Homo sapiens: one gene and its partners. The protein of the gene in region 3 interacts with the protein of the main gene of each other region in a pairwise test. Each region holds a gene or a part of one and is shown on either strand. Other genes may lie near its edges.

The links.
Region 1: the proteins of MGARP (region 3) and GDAP1 interact in binary tests that used the Homo sapiens proteins (3 or more experiments, as listed by UniProt).
Region 2: the proteins of MGARP (region 3) and APBB2 interact in binary tests that used the Homo sapiens proteins (3 or more experiments, as listed by UniProt).
Region 4: the proteins of MGARP (region 3) and A2M interact in binary tests that used the Homo sapiens proteins (3 or more experiments, as listed by UniProt).

What each region holds. Positions count from the first base shown.
Region 1 is NC_000008.11:74,356,879-74,360,446, reverse strand, and holds part of GDAP1 (ganglioside-induced differentiation-associated protein 1), read right to left. Parts: intron 311-3,568; coding exon 137-310; intron 1-136. UniProt on the Homo sapiens protein: Regulates the mitochondrial network by promoting mitochondrial fission.
Region 2 is NC_000004.12:41,204,535-41,208,102, reverse strand, and holds part of APBB2 (amyloid beta precursor protein binding family B member 2), read left to right. Parts: intron 1-3,568. UniProt on the Homo sapiens protein: Plays a role in the maintenance of lens transparency, and may also play a role in muscle cell strength. Involved in hippocampal neurite branching and neuromuscular junction formation, as a result plays a role in spatial memory functioning.
Region 3 is NC_000004.12:139,277,358-139,281,671, forward strand, and holds the start of MGARP (protein MGARP), read right to left. Parts: upstream 2,869-4,314; 5' UTR 2,802-2,868; coding exon 2,720-2,801; intron 1-2,719. UniProt on the Homo sapiens protein: Plays a role in the trafficking of mitochondria along microtubules. Regulates the kinesin-mediated axonal transport of mitochondria to nerve terminals along microtubules during hypoxia.
Region 4 is NC_000012.12:9,070,912-9,074,479, forward strand, and holds part of A2M (alpha-2-macroglobulin isoform a precursor), read right to left. Parts: intron 1,961-3,568; coding exon 1,742-1,960; intron 1,576-1,741; coding exon 1,448-1,575; intron 1-1,447. UniProt on the Homo sapiens protein: Is able to inhibit all four classes of proteinases by a unique 'trapping' mechanism. This protein has a peptide stretch, called the 'bait region' which contains specific cleavage sites for different proteinases.

The DNA of each region.
Region 1 (3,568 bases), on a different chromosome or scaffold from region 3:
AACATGCACATCCATGAAGCAAACTCAACAACCCTATTCCCAATCTTCTTTTAGTGACCATGAGACATGCTAGGTCTCAAAATGAATTAAAAGAAAGTGTCAGACAGAATTCCAGGTCTTTAAAATGTTTACATACTACGAATCCTTGTAGTTGCATAAGCCGGGATCATGGAGTCCACAGTTAACTCAGGATGTAAAATGCAGCCATGTGTATAGGCATCCATTGGCAAGGAGTCAAGCAGCTCTCGGTAATGTTGTACCCGTGGGTAATACATGCTTTCTTTATCAGGCATTAACCTGGGTGTTCTTTCTAAAATACACACACACAAATATTGAAGAAAAAGTTACACATGAGTTGTTACACTCAAAAGCAAAACAAAAACACTATCCACTCATCATTAACATTTTCAACATATCTGTATATTCAAAAAACACTGTCTCCTCACCTCAGACATTCATTCAAAGTTTGAAATGGCCTGATGCACCAGACAAGATCCCAAACCATAATCACATTGGTATTCTCTCATTTCTTCACCTTGCAAACTGCACTCAGCCCTCAAGGCCCAGTTATTTATGCCATTTATTCCATGAAGCATTCCCTAACCTCCTACAACTGCCAACATCTGACTGGCTCACATGTGCCTTCTTCTATACATCCATAACACATTACACACACTCTGTTACAGCCCTTATCACACTGTAATTCATTGCATCTTTTTTCCCCATGACTGTCTTCAGGGAAAGGAACCTGCAATCCAGAGTCTAGCACAGTTCTCCACACACTTGAGGCCCTCAATAAAGTTTGGTTAATTGAATGAGGGCTCATTATGGAAAGATAATCAGGGGCTACTCTTTTCTAGGTGCCAACCAACATCAAGAGTGACCCTACTGACACATGTGAATGTGAATGACAATCTATATGGAACAGGAAAGGCCTTTGCTCAAATATCGCAGGTGCACTTTCCCCAGGAATTTCTAACAATTATCTCTGGAAAGTGGGTTCTACATACATCCTTATTTGCTAGTTAAAATCCAAACTGTAGAGTCCTTGAGGGCAGGGACCATGTACTGCTCTCTGTTAAATCCCCAGTGCCTAGTATAATGTTTGACATGTAGTAGGTGTTTAATAAATTACAATGAATACATTCCAAAATTTCCAATTATTATATAGATTACTTGAGCTGGAGAAGTGCTGCAGGAGTTAACATGTACACTCAGATACAAGGGCTGAAAATTTCTCCCAAGATCCCACAGCTAATTAGAGGCAGAGCTAGAACTAAAGTCATCTGATTCCTAATGTAATGTTCTCTTTGATTATACCATCATAACATTTTCAAAGGATTTTCATTTCATAGACTATCGAAAAAGAATAAAAGTGAAGGATGCAACCCAAAGGTCAGGGCTATGTCCCTTCAGAATCTCTTCCTATCTCTGGCTGTCAAACTGTCCCTAAAAAATGTCAGGTCTAATAACTATCACAATTTCAAAATATTAAGATATCTGCAATAACTTAACCATGAACATATCTGTGAGTTCTATTGGTTATCAAAGCCAGAAGCACTCCTGATATTGCCATGGATTGTGCCTACATTGCTAATGGAAGGAAATAATTCCTTTAAATAGAGATACAATTATTCCCTATCCAAGATCTCAAATCTCCTGAATTCTATTCATAAACCCCTAAGCGCAACAGTTCTCACACTATGGTCTGAGGATCCCTGGGTTTTCCTAAAACATGTTTGGGGGATCTACAAAGATATTTTTATAGAAATACTAAGACGTTAATTACTTTTTCACTCTTATTCTCTCTCAAGTGTACAGTAGAAGTTTCCAGAGGCTACAGGAAACATGACTCTATCACTCTGACAGCTAGTGGGATTGTGCTTAACCAGGCTAATATTTTAAGTTTTCTCAGTTTTGCTTTCTAAATGGTAAATATTGATAGCTATGATCCACATAAACAAATGCTCTCTGGTATCCTCAAAGACAAAGGGGTATAGAGACCAAAAAGTTTAAGAACTAATGCTTTAGGGGTCCAAGAACCTCAGGCTAATAACCCTAAATAGTACATTTTCAAATGCTTCCCAAAAGGTCCAAGTAATGGCTAGTGGCTCTGGCTGCTTTCTGGTACTGGGCCCTGGGGCTTCTCTCCAGAAGAGCATACCATTTCCTTCCTAGGAAAGTGAATGAGAGCAGGAAAAACAATGTCTAATTGCTTTCTGGGGAAGATCCATCAGGCCAAGCCCAAATTCTTCAAGGAGGACAAATGTTTAAATCCATGAAAATAATTTTCTTCTACTCAGTGTGCCGTTACTGTCTAACCATTTCCTGAAGCACTCTGTCAGAGCATGAGATACCCACTGAACCCAAGTTATCTCCCCATCTCTCTTTCTTTGTGCGCATCAAGCATGCCCTCTCCAGTATCACAGGGGCACTGCGCTGCCATCCTCACACTGAAGCACAACAGTATCTGCTGCTTCTGATAAAAGAGTTTTTCAAAGGAAAACTGGGAATTTCCTTTGAATTATAGAGGAGATCTTCCCTCTCAATCCCATCCTATTTTATTTTCCAGTTCTTCCGTAGAGTACCTTTATCAAAATACCAAAAGCAAGAATTTTTTTCTCAGTAATGTACCTCAATCAGGAGTGGGAAAGCAACATAAGGCATAGCGGGGCAGGACAGAGAATTAGGGAGTTTTAAGAAGCAGGCAATGAGAGGAGGTCCCAGCATTGGGGAGTGGGATTGCAACAGTGGAAATGAGGCTTGGTATTAAGCTAGAAGAACAAATAAGTTGGCACAAGATCCGACTTGCCGGAAGAACTGAGTAGGGGAAAAGTTTTATATTACACATAAATTTAGGCAGCAAATTATAAACCAGCAGATAGACATAAAGCAGAAAGATTTGATAAACAGCAGAGGAAACCAAAAGAAGCAAAAAATAAAATCAGAAAGAAACAATAAAAGCATTCTGCAGCCATGTAATGGAGACAAATGGGCCTCTACATTCTCAAGTCCCTGTAATGCTGAGTAAAATAACAATGGCTCTGAGCCATTTTTTTAAATTACATTTGGTTTTCCCAAGAGTAAAACATAAAAAGAAATTAGGGGCTTAAAGGCATAAGTTTTCATTATTTTACAAAATTCACTACTCTGGTTACCCATCTTTCCTAGTAAAGGCAGATAAAGGAGGCATTATTATGCCTTGTTTTCAAGAAAGACTCCCCTAGGTCTACTTGTACAACTTTCAAGTCTCCCTTACTACTAGCTCAATGGAAACAGATTAGATTTCATTCCTCACTCTAGCCCTTTGCTGTTTATTTTACTTAGACTGTATAGTGATTGCATCAGTATATAATATGCATAATACAGCTGAATAATATTGTACCCTTCAACTAGTCACACACTAGGCTATTTTTAAAAAATTCAATAATAGGCTGGGCACGGTGGCTCATGCCTGTAATCCCAGCACTTTGGGAGGCCAAGGCAGGCAGATCACGAGGTCAGGAGATCGAGAGACCATCCCGGCCAACATGGTGAAACCCCGTCTCTACTAAAATACAAAAAATTA
Region 2 (3,568 bases), about 98 Mb from region 3:
AGCTCAGTTTCCACACAATATAAAAGTAAATGAGTATCTCCTATATGCAGAGCATAATGTTAGCCCCACAGGTCATTTATTGTTGGTTAGTGGTTTTCACTGTTCTTATCACAATGATGATAATGATGTAGTGAATATGTCATAATTGTTCAAATAAGAAGATATGTCCTTTTCTCTGATACTATGCCTTTCTCATTTTTGGGTAAGATTCTTTTATGATTTGATAGGAATATTTTTATCTAGCCGCTGAATGGTCCATGAAATTGGTAAGTCTGGGAATCTGGGCCTGAGATGCAGGGAGGCCTGCCCTTGGGATTGAGTTGAGTCATGGAGGCCAGGCCAACATGTGGAGTTTGTGGGTCAGCTGATGGGGCCCCTGGGCTTTCCAGGAATATAGAGTCACCCAAGGTCCTAGGAACTGTGAATGAGCTAATTTTGAAAGTGCCCTAGGAGCCAGTGACTATTTTTGAATTATAGCTTGAGAATGACAAGGAAAGCACCAAGATGAAAGATGAGGGTGTAAGGGAACAGAATGGGCAAGTGGTTGAAGTGTGAATTTCAGCAGGTGAACCTCAAGATGTATCTTGACATTTGATTCTTTGCATGCAGGCCTCTTTCTGGCAAAACAACACTCTTTAGCAATTCTTAGTTAGTGATTCTAGGAAATGGTGATGGGTGAAAGCCATAGAACCTAGAATTGTGTAATAGCCAGCTTGGCCCAGACCTCTGCAGTATCATTCCCTCCAGGGTGAGCCTTGAATTGCTGGAGGAAGCTTCAGAATGATTTGCTCATGGAATTGCTGTTATTCACCTTTAGTTTTGGTTGCTATTGTGGGGTGAAGAAGGAGTGTCAAAACAATAACAACAAATTATTTCCTTTTTTTTTTTTTTTTTTTTTTTTTTTGAGACGGAGTCTCACTTGGTCGCCCAGGCTGGAATGCAGTGGCTTAATCTCGGCTCACTGCAACCTCCACCTTCCAGGTTCAAGCAGTTTTCCTGCCTCAGCTACCCAAGTAGTTGGAACTACAGGTGCCCGCCACTGTATCCGGCTAATTTTTGTATTTTTAGTAGAGGCTGGGGTTTCACCACTTTGGCCAAGCAGGTCTCGAACTCCTGACCTCAAGTGATCTGCCCGCCTCAGCCTCTCAAAGTGCTGGGATTACAGGTATGGGTCCTCTCCCTGGCAGCATCCTGCTTGCTCTTTGGTGCTGGCTCTGTTCTTACCTTCTGATCTTCCTTCTGTTTCTCAGGTAGACTTCTGTCCTGGGCAAGAGTCGACCTGCCACATTGAGTATCACAATTTGCTAGGTGGTATTGTTTGTCAGTGGAAGTGAATAAATCAGAATTTCCTTAGCATGAGTTAGGTTTCTTGAGTTGTTTCATTCCTGGGGGAACTAATACCGTTAAAATTTCCTTGACATTTCAAGAAATGATCATATACCACATTGCAAATTTTGAACACAGCAGAGGCATGATTTGGGTGTAGAGACACCTTGGGAAGCATTGATTCAGACTCAGATTCTTCAGATTATCTGATCAGAACCTCTTGTCCTCTCCAAGAACCAAGGTCTGTGTATACCTTTTCCAGGACACTGGTGAAGAGAGACATTCATTTGGTGACATCCAGAAACCTCGGCTTCATTTGTTCCTTCCTTTGTTCAGCAAATGCTTATTGAGTACATAGTTTGTGCCTGGCACTGTGCTAAGTTCAGGAGGACAGAGAGGAATGTACCAGAACATTGGTTATAGGGTGCTGCAGTAGAGGCATGTGTGTGATGGGAGTGGAGGGGAAGGAAGGCTGTCCTAATCCTGCGAGAGTGGCAAGAGCTGTGGCTAGTGACTCCTCATGTAAAATTCCCACTACAGCAAACCCTTCAGCTGCTTCCTTTGTCATCTTTCCTTAACTCAATTTTATTCCTGCCTACCACCCAGGATTTGCTACTCCTTTTGTAAGGGAACTCGGGATTTGGCCTTTCAAATCTCTGTGGCAGTAGTTCTTAAGCAGGACAGTTTTGCTCACTGGGGAACATTTGGCAGTGACATTTTGGTCATGGTGACTGTGGAGGGATAACTACTGGCATCTAGTAGGAAGAGGCTAAGAATGCTACTAAATATCCTACAACATGTGCAAGGATAGCCCTAGAAGGAGGCAGCAGGGGTTTAGTGGTCAAGTCCCAGTGCTGCTCTGCAATTTAATAGCCATATGACAAAGGGCAACAGAATTGTACTTTGACAACAGAATTACACAGTGCTCAGTTTGCTCATCTGCAAATAGGAATACTAATTGTGCTTATATAATATGATTGTTGTGAAGATTTCATCAGTGAATGTATAAGGGCAGAGAACAATACTTGATGTGAGATAAGACCTTACTTAACGAGTATTTTTATTTTTAGTTTTAAACAAAAACTTTACCTTTTGACTCTAAAGAGCTTGAGTTTAGAGTATCCAGGGCAGTTGAGCTTGTAGCCCTACCTGTAAGTATGCTTTGGTGTAGGAAATGGCCATAGTTTTTGTGTTTTTCTAGTTCCTTTTTGTCCGTTGGCTTTATTTCCCATTGTCTCATCTCTTGAGATTTTTAATAGCTTTGCCTTTCATCCCTTTTTTCCCAGGGACCCAAATTTATGCCCTTAATGAGCTTTTCCCTAGAGGGCTGAGAATTATATTTATGATTTTCCTTAGCTCTGTCTATTTTGGGAATGGTGAGAAAATGGGAAGCGGGTCAGGGGAGATGTTGCATTACTTCCTGATTGCCATAGCTCCCTTCTCTGTAAAATCCCGTGAAGGATTGAGAGGCAGGTGGTAGTGCTTGCTTAGTAACTCTTCCCTTTACACCCACCAGCTCCACTCCCAAGTTGGGTGCCTACTACTTCCAAAATACCCCGTAATTGGGTCACAACATTATCTGCCTGCTTGGAATCATATTTAAAAATCAAAGCAAAGATGCAGACTATGTCAGCAGGATTTGAAATGTTTCCATCCTCTGCTTTGAGGCTTTGCAGAATTATTCTGAAAACAAAAGAAGGTAAACTTGTTATCCCAATGAGGTGGCAGTTTCTATGTGGCCTAGAATTATGCCTAATTTTTGCTTGTAAAAGGGCTCAAACCATGATCCTTTCTGACTTTCCACAGGGATGTGAGCTTTTGTGGACATCACTCAACAGATCAGATTTACTGTTGAATTTTCATAACATAATTGACTTGGAAAGCATTTCATTCAGTGTTTTGAATGGTGACTAGAGAGAAATTAAGAAGCTCAGTTGTTATATCTTTCGAATTCCTTTCCCATGACACAGTCATCTCTCCCCTGAATGAGAGCAGTGGCCTCCTGGCTTATCCAGCTCTGTTCACTCAGTTTGGCTTCCCAAGTGCTGGGCACTGTTCCAGATGCCACACGTGGACACTGACCAGGATGGCCACTGCCTCTACCTGCTCGGAGCTCTGGGTCTATAGAGAAAGGCTGACAGCTAAGGAATGAATGACGGTACTATGTGATACGTATTACTGGGAGAAATACTCAGTGCTTCCCAGACGAGCACTTATCCTGCTTGGGTGTGGGGAGTGTGTG
Region 3 (4,314 bases):
CTAATGTGCCCCAAAGGCTATGAGAAGAGGTTATCGCTTTGACTTGTGGTGGGACTTCTGATGGCTTAAAAGTACATCTGTGATCAAATAGGGAATATATAGCCTTCATATTTCTCAAACAGACAAAAATATCAGAAATATTTTTTAAATAGAACTAAAATTACCAGAGATTTAAGTAGACTTAAATACAAATACAATGATGGACAAGTTACTTAAAAAGACAATGAAATGAGAAATTTTTCAATAAGGATTAATTAGACAAATTTTAGCACATTCATACAATGTGAAACAAATAGACATAACTTTTGCAGAACAATATTTACTTACATGAGAAAATATTTACAATGTATTAGGTGAAAAGTCATAGCAAAATACTCTGGGACTATCCAAGATTTGTGGAAATAATGTGCACAAGGAAGGAATGAGGGGAAAAAAAAGGTCTGGAAAACTAAATATACTAAAACGTAATTAGTTGTGTTCACTGAGTGGTAGGATTACAGGTGAATTCCATTTTTTATTTTACCTGTTTTTCCCCAATTATCTATTATAAATCTAAATTATTTATTCATTAAAAAGTTACCCTTTTAAGGCTGGGCTCGGTGGCTCACACCTGTAATCCCAGCACTTTGGGAGGCCGAGGTAGGTGGATCACCTTAGGTTGGGAGTTCAAGACCAGCCTGACCAACATGGAGAAACCCCATCTCTACTAAAAATGCAAAATTAGCTGGGTGTGGTGGCCCGTGCCTGTAATCCCAGCTACTCCGGAGGCTGAGGCAGGAGAATCACTTGGATCCGGGAGGCGGAGGTTGTGGTGAGCCGAGATCACGCCATTGCACTCCAGCCTGAGCAACAAGAGTGAAACTCTGTCTCAAAAAAATAAAATTACCCTTTTAAAAGCAAAAAGGAGAGAACAAAATGTGATGAGACACAGTTAAAAATTTTTCCTTCAATAAAACTGAAAAAAATTATTTTTCATCAAAGTAGAAAGTATGAACAAAAGGTTAAGTAATGTCCACGACTGAAGACAAATTTGTTTCCAATCAATAATAGTTCTTAAATACATTTTAAGTGCTGCAAAAATAGTTAGATGAAAATCAGAGAAAGACCAGTACCTTTACAAGCAGCATTGCTAGATACGTATTTAAAATTTTTAAACTACTTCTATTTTGCCGCAAATTGGGAAGAAAATTATTTGGAATTTCTGCAGCTACAAAAAAAAGGTGCGCGTGTGTGTGTGTGTGTTTGTGTGTGCGTGCACGCGCGCATGATGTCGGTGGGGAACGCAGACAGATAAAACGAAAGGCCACGGTCAGAGGACTAATCTTTCTCCCCGTTCTCAACAGAACAGTCCCGTTATCTTCCGAAGTTTAAAATAAATGGCTTCTCCCTACTTCATCAGTGTATATATATATTTAAAAGCTCTATATCATTTGGTATAAAGATCTAGAAAAATAAAGGCAATAAAGATCTAGGAAAACGAAGATGTCTTATTTCTGATACTTGAGGGATAACTTCCTTCCACCAGCATTTTACAAGAAAAATAAAGCGAGTTAGTTAGACCTCCGTCCTTCCCTCCCACCACCACCAACAGAGGCCTAATCAACGTGAAAAAAAAATCGGCCCATGGAATTCTCCGCGCACATCTTTCTCTCCTGCTGGAATCCACCCTCTGGGGTAAAATTATCTCGGAAGGCTCAGAAAGTGAGGCTAAGTGAAGAGAGCATTAAGAACCCTTCACGATATTGTCTAAGAGCCGTCCCCCAGTCGTGAGTGGAAGAGAGAGGGGTGACGGATGGGGACTAGGGAAAAGCGGCTGGGGCAGAACCGCCCTGGAGCGCAAGCCTGGTCCCAGAAGAAAAACAATCTTCCTTGCTCACACCTATTAAGCACCTACTATGTTCCCAGCACTATACGAAGCGCTTTCCTATATGTCCGTTTTTATTTAATAAGCCTCCAGTTCACACTGCAACTCCCCCTTTAGTTAATTGCTGAGTATTCTGCTTTTTCTCGCGTATCCTCAGAACCAAAGGTGTCGATATTTGGACTACAGAGCCAAGCAGTTGCAGGACGACGTGCAACCTCAAAGGAAAGTGTCCCGAAGGCCGCTTCCTTTTTGGGGGTTGTGGATCTCAGAGCCAGGCGCTCGCGGGGTTCAGGCTGCTGAGACCCTGCCAAGGGTTAGGTTTATTTACCCCACGAACATTCGCCCAGCGTCCACTGAGCGGGCCCTGCCTCACTGCCTCCCAGCGCTTGCCGGGCCCGCTCGCTGATCGGCGTCCACCTTCCCACCGTTCCTCTGCTTCCTCAGGAGATTGGAGAGCGAATGGTGCCTCTAACAATAAAAGTGGTAAGCTGCGACTTTGTCAGCCAGGCACGTTTTTAAGTGCTTTTAACCATACATTAACTCATTAAAAAGGAAAACCATCATCGCCCTCATTTTATAGATGAGGAAACAGGTTAAGCCATTTGTCCAAGATCAGGATGCGAACCCAGATAATCTGGACTCTGAGGCACCCTGGAAAAGTTCCCTACTTCCAAAGTCTGCAGGAGCTTCGGGACGTCTTCCCGGGAGTCTCCCCCAGTCTCCTCGACCTCCAATCCAGGCTTCTGCTGCTCTGGGTCGGGTTTGGCCAACTGGGTGCCGGCCGGTTCCCTGGCGCGGGCGAAATCTGCACCCGAGGCGCCCGTCCTCCTCTCCGGGCTAGACCTCCTTACTCACCGTCCTTTCCGAGCGGCGCGGGGTTGGGGGGCGCCCTCAGCGGCAGCGCCAGAGTCTTGGAGACCGCCCTGCGGAGATACATCGCGCCCGCTGTCCGCCGCGCAGCAGCCTCGGTACCCAGGCGCAGGCTGCCCTTCCACAGAGAGGCTGAGAGCCTGGCAGCGCCCCGCCCGGAGGAGGCACGTCGACCTTCATCCAGCCCCGCCTCCGCGGCCCCCGGGAGGTGGGGAGACCTTTGTAGTCCTCACCATCCTCCCCTAACCCATCTCCAGCTCTGTTGCTATCCCTGAGGTCTCTAGAGCTGACCGCGGCATCTCAGAAAAGGGATGGGGAACCTACAAGTCGCCGTCGCCTGCCTGGCTCATTCTGTACCACTGAATGTAACTCCTCACAGCAAGCTGGAAATGTTTTGGGAATTGGACGAGATTAAGACAAGGACACAGTTTATCACGCTGGATGTAATCTGAAACCATTTTATCTCCTGCATTCCGTTAGCTTTCCTAGGAGAGGGAAGGATAGCTGGAAGTTTCTTAAAAATGAGAAGAGCGAAGGGGTAGCCTCAGCCTTCCATTAGCGCACTGGGTGATGCTCAGAATCGTAAGAAAATCTGCAGACAATGGTTGAATTTCTAGACAGCTCACTGTTAAAACGACTTTAAAATATCAAAAACACTGTATATTCCTCTATGGGATGTGAAATTAATATTTCCACATCAGCGGCCGGGCACAGTGGCTCACGTTTATAATCCCAGCACTTTGGGAGGCCGAGGCAGGCGGATCACTTGAGGTCAGGAGTTGGAGAGCAGCCTGGGCAACATGGTGAAACCCCGTTTCTACTAAAAATACAAAAAATTAGCCGGGAGTGGTGGCGCGGGCCTGTAATCCCAGCTACTCGGGACGCTAAGGCAGGAGAATCGCTTGAACCCGGGAGGCGGAGGTCGCAGTGAGCCGAGATCATGCCACTACATTCAAGCCTGGGTGACAGAGCAAGACCCTGTCTCAAAAGCAAAACAAAACAAAACAAAAACCCCAAAAACAAAACAAAACAAACAAAACAAAAAAACACATCAACTAAAAATACTAAATTATTAGTTTTCCGTCTCATCGTGGCTACAAGAACTTGTCATGGTTTGAATATGGAAACCAATAATTTATTACGTTTATAACATTGTCTAAATGATTACTCTTTGGAAGACACCATTTCCTACTATAATAATCCCTTATGTGTGTTTGGCACTTGAAAGATTATAAAGCACTTTCACATCTATTATCTCTTTTAATTTTCACTGCAACCCTCTGAGGGAGGTGGCAATTATTCCCTTTAGCAAATGCCACCACCAGGTGGTGGGTGGGAATGTCCAGGGATTTACTGGTGGTCATGAATTAAAAAACAAAAAGGACATGAACATAATACTTCTAGCTTAAAGTTCTATTGGCATGTAACAGGCACAATATTTGTTCATTTGCTATGTAAATAGACGTTTCTCAGAAGTTATAGTCCTGAACCTAATTATAATTATATTTAACATATTCTCATAAGAAGAGTACAAGCCAATGATCAGATTGGTTTTTTGATACTCAGAAAGAGAGTTAACT
Region 4 (3,568 bases), on a different chromosome or scaffold from region 3:
CTGGGTTCAAGTGATTCTCCTGCCTCAGCCTCCCGAGTAGCTGGGATTACAGGCATGCACCACCACGTCCGACTAATTTTGTATTTTTAGTACAGACGGGGTTTCTCCATGTTGGTCAGGCTGGTCTTGAACTCCCGACCTAAGGTAATCTGCCCGCCTTGGCCTCCCAAAGTGCTGAGATTACAGGCGTGAGCCACCACGCCCGGCTGAGGATCTGCATTTTAAGAAAGCTCTACAAGTGATGCACAGGCTGTTTGTGACCTCTAATCTATGCCAGTTATTTTATTTATTTGTTTACTTTTATTTTCTTTCAGCTGACAAAATGATGTATATTATGAATAATAAATTTCAGTCTACATTATTTACAAAAACAACAATAATTTATAATGTTTACTTAAACACTGGCTTTCAACAAAACACTTAGAAACACCTAGCGTCTTGTCCCCGAGAGTTTGCATCCGAAATTTGGACTGCTTAATTTATTTTTTGGCATATATATACACCAAATTAAATGAAAAAAATATATATATATATACTTAACTTTTAGGTTCAGGCGTACACATGCAGGTTTGTTATATAGGTAAACTCGTGTCATGGGGGTTTGGTGTACAGATTACTTTATCACTTGGGTACTAAATTTTGCACTGAATTGTTGTTTTTTTCTGATCTTCTCCCTCCTCCCATCCTTAACCCTCAAGTAGGCTCTGGTGTCTGTTGTTCTCCTTTTTGTGTCCATATGTTCTCATCATTTAGCTCCCACTTACAAATGAGAACATGCAGTGTTTGGTTTTCCATTCCTGTGCTAGTTTGCCAAGGATAATGACCTCCATCTCCATCCATGTTCCTGCAAAGGTCATGATCTCATTCTTTTTGATGTGTGCCAGTTATTTGTTACATGTATTTTGTCCTAACTTTTTTCCTGAATAGTATCTCCAACCAAGTAATAATATGTTTGTGGAGAGAGAGTTTTTTATCAGATCTGCAGCTATTTAAATATTGATGCATATAAGTGTATCTTCCCCCCAAATTAATTATATCATATATAACCTGAGATTTATTATTGCCAGTAGGAATTCTAACTAAGGAGTCACTACTTCCTTCTATTCAAACTTTTCAATAATTCTTCATCTCTATCTTCAATAAAGCAAGAATAATATAGGATTTCATTACATAACAAGGAATTCAGGTCAGAGGCAATGGGTAATATTTACTTAGTTGTTATTGAGGGAAATTATTACCCTTTAAACAATGAGGTTGCACAATAGTAGATCCTGGATGGACAATGTAAACCCCATCATTGAGAAATTATATCAACTTAAGAGAATACATTGCATTTTTTGTGAATAGTGCAAATATCTACTGTTGCACTGCTTTACTTAAAGAGGAGTTCCCGAAAGAAGACTGGTGGTTATTCTTAGGATTAGGTGATAGAGTCAGAAGGTCTTACCTGACACTTAGGGAGATTTGGAAGCTGGTGTGGGCTTTGGGTTCATCACAAGTTTGAGGCAGAGTCTGCACTCCTAAAGCAAAGGGGAACTCTTCCTTTTCTGGGAGAATATTGTATTTCAAGGATGTCTATAGAACATCAAAGACAAAATCAGTTTTTTGCCCTTTCCCAGAATTCCTGTCCACGTCCCTAACCCTTTCTCTGATCTGTCCCATTGTTTTCTGAGTTAGGACTTCTCAGAGAGAACAGCTGCTGTCCTCATCTGTCCTGTCCTCACCTGCCCAAGAGTCTCACCTGGAGGTAGACACATCCTTCTCCTGTCACTTTCATGCTGTATTCCCCAGGCAGCTCTGGCAATGAGACCTGCTGCAGTAACAGGCGGTTGTTGTTGTCCACTTGGAATTTGCTGGAAAATGTCCCTGAAGACTGGATAGTCACCTGTGCAGCCTTCCCAGTCCTGGTAAATGTGGCTGCTCCATATTTGGACAGAGCATGGAGAGCCACCACTGTGTCCTGTTAGAGACAGATGAGTGAGAGAACCCATTGGGCATTATAAGGCTTTGAGGGCTGAGATATTTTTCAAAGACCCATGTGAGGGACTTTGATTTCCTACTTCCCTCACTACTTAAATATAGGAGCTGTAATTTCAAGATTGATTATAATCTTTAGATAGTTGAAGAACCATAACATTCACATATCTACCTTGGACTGTATGCCCTACATGTTTATTTTATTTATCAGAAAATTGATCCTTTTCTCTCTGTAAGTATATGTGGGACATGGAATGTGGAAAACATGTGAATGGCAATCAGTTATTGGCATCAGCTATTTGCTAACATGTCTTTCTTGACAACTATGCTCATATCTGCCACCACTCAAGCAAAGTTCAGTCTGGCTCTCTCCCATATTAAACTTTGCTCAGTTGCTGAGGTCAGTGTCCTGGAGAGAACCCAAGGTTCTTTGCAGCCATGAGCAGAGTCATGCTTCAGTTTCTCCAAAAGAAATAAAAGATGAGTATTATAATTATCTTCTGGATTTAATGACATTTTTATTTGGCTTTCCCTTTTTATTGGATGATTTCCTGTTCCCAGTGAATGTCTGCTGGTATGTATCCTCAACAACATTAAACCTGCTTGGCCTCCTTCAAATAATATGTTTCTAATAAATGAATGATAACCTTTAACAAAATTACTTAGTTTTTTTCATTCATATGATAAAAGATTAATACAATGGAAATAGGATGGAATGCCATTTTGTCACATTTTTTCCGTTTTAGGGTATATAAGCAAACATCCGAATTCTCTGAAGATAAAACTTTCTGCTGTGTACATATCAATGAATTGTTCAGATACATGGTTATATAGCTAGATTTAGGAGGTTGGATGAATAAAGACAGTTCTTTATGCTCCTGATGAATAAATGTTTGTGTATTAAGAGGTGAATAGGGGGCTGGACGCAGTGGCTCACACCTATAATCCTAGCACTTTGTGAGGCCAAGGCGGATGGATTGCCTGAGCTCAGGACTTCGAGATCAGCCTGGGCAACATGGCAAAACCTCGTCTCTACTAAAAATACAAAAATTAGCCAGGCATGATTGCACATGACTGTAATCCTAGATACTTGGGAGGCTGAGGCACTAGAATCGCTTGAACCTGGGAGATGGAGGTTGCAGTGAGCCGAGATTGCACCACTGCATTCCAGCCTAGGTGACAGAGCAAGACTCTGTCTTAAAAAAAAAAAAAAAAAAAAGGTGAATAGGGGAAGCACAAAATGTGTAGTTTTGAGAAAAGCCTATTAAAGGGGACCTAAGAATGGAGAGATTTGCGAGGAGAGGTTGTTGGATTTTGAGTAGAGTTCCTTTGAACAGTTTGAAAGAGACCCTAGAGCTTTCAGGAGAATGGCAGGAGACATCTCCTTCATTCTGCTGGTGCTCCACTGCTGCTTGAGGAAGGCAGTGTTGTTATGGGAAATAGGAGATGGATAATAACACAGCGATGGGGTGCCGGGATTCTGAGCATTTCCTTTTGGCCCTCTTTGACTTTGATTTGCTTTTATTTCCATTATCCTTGGATACTGAAAACTTTTCCTCATTTCAAGTTACTGTCATCTGTATTTTTTTCT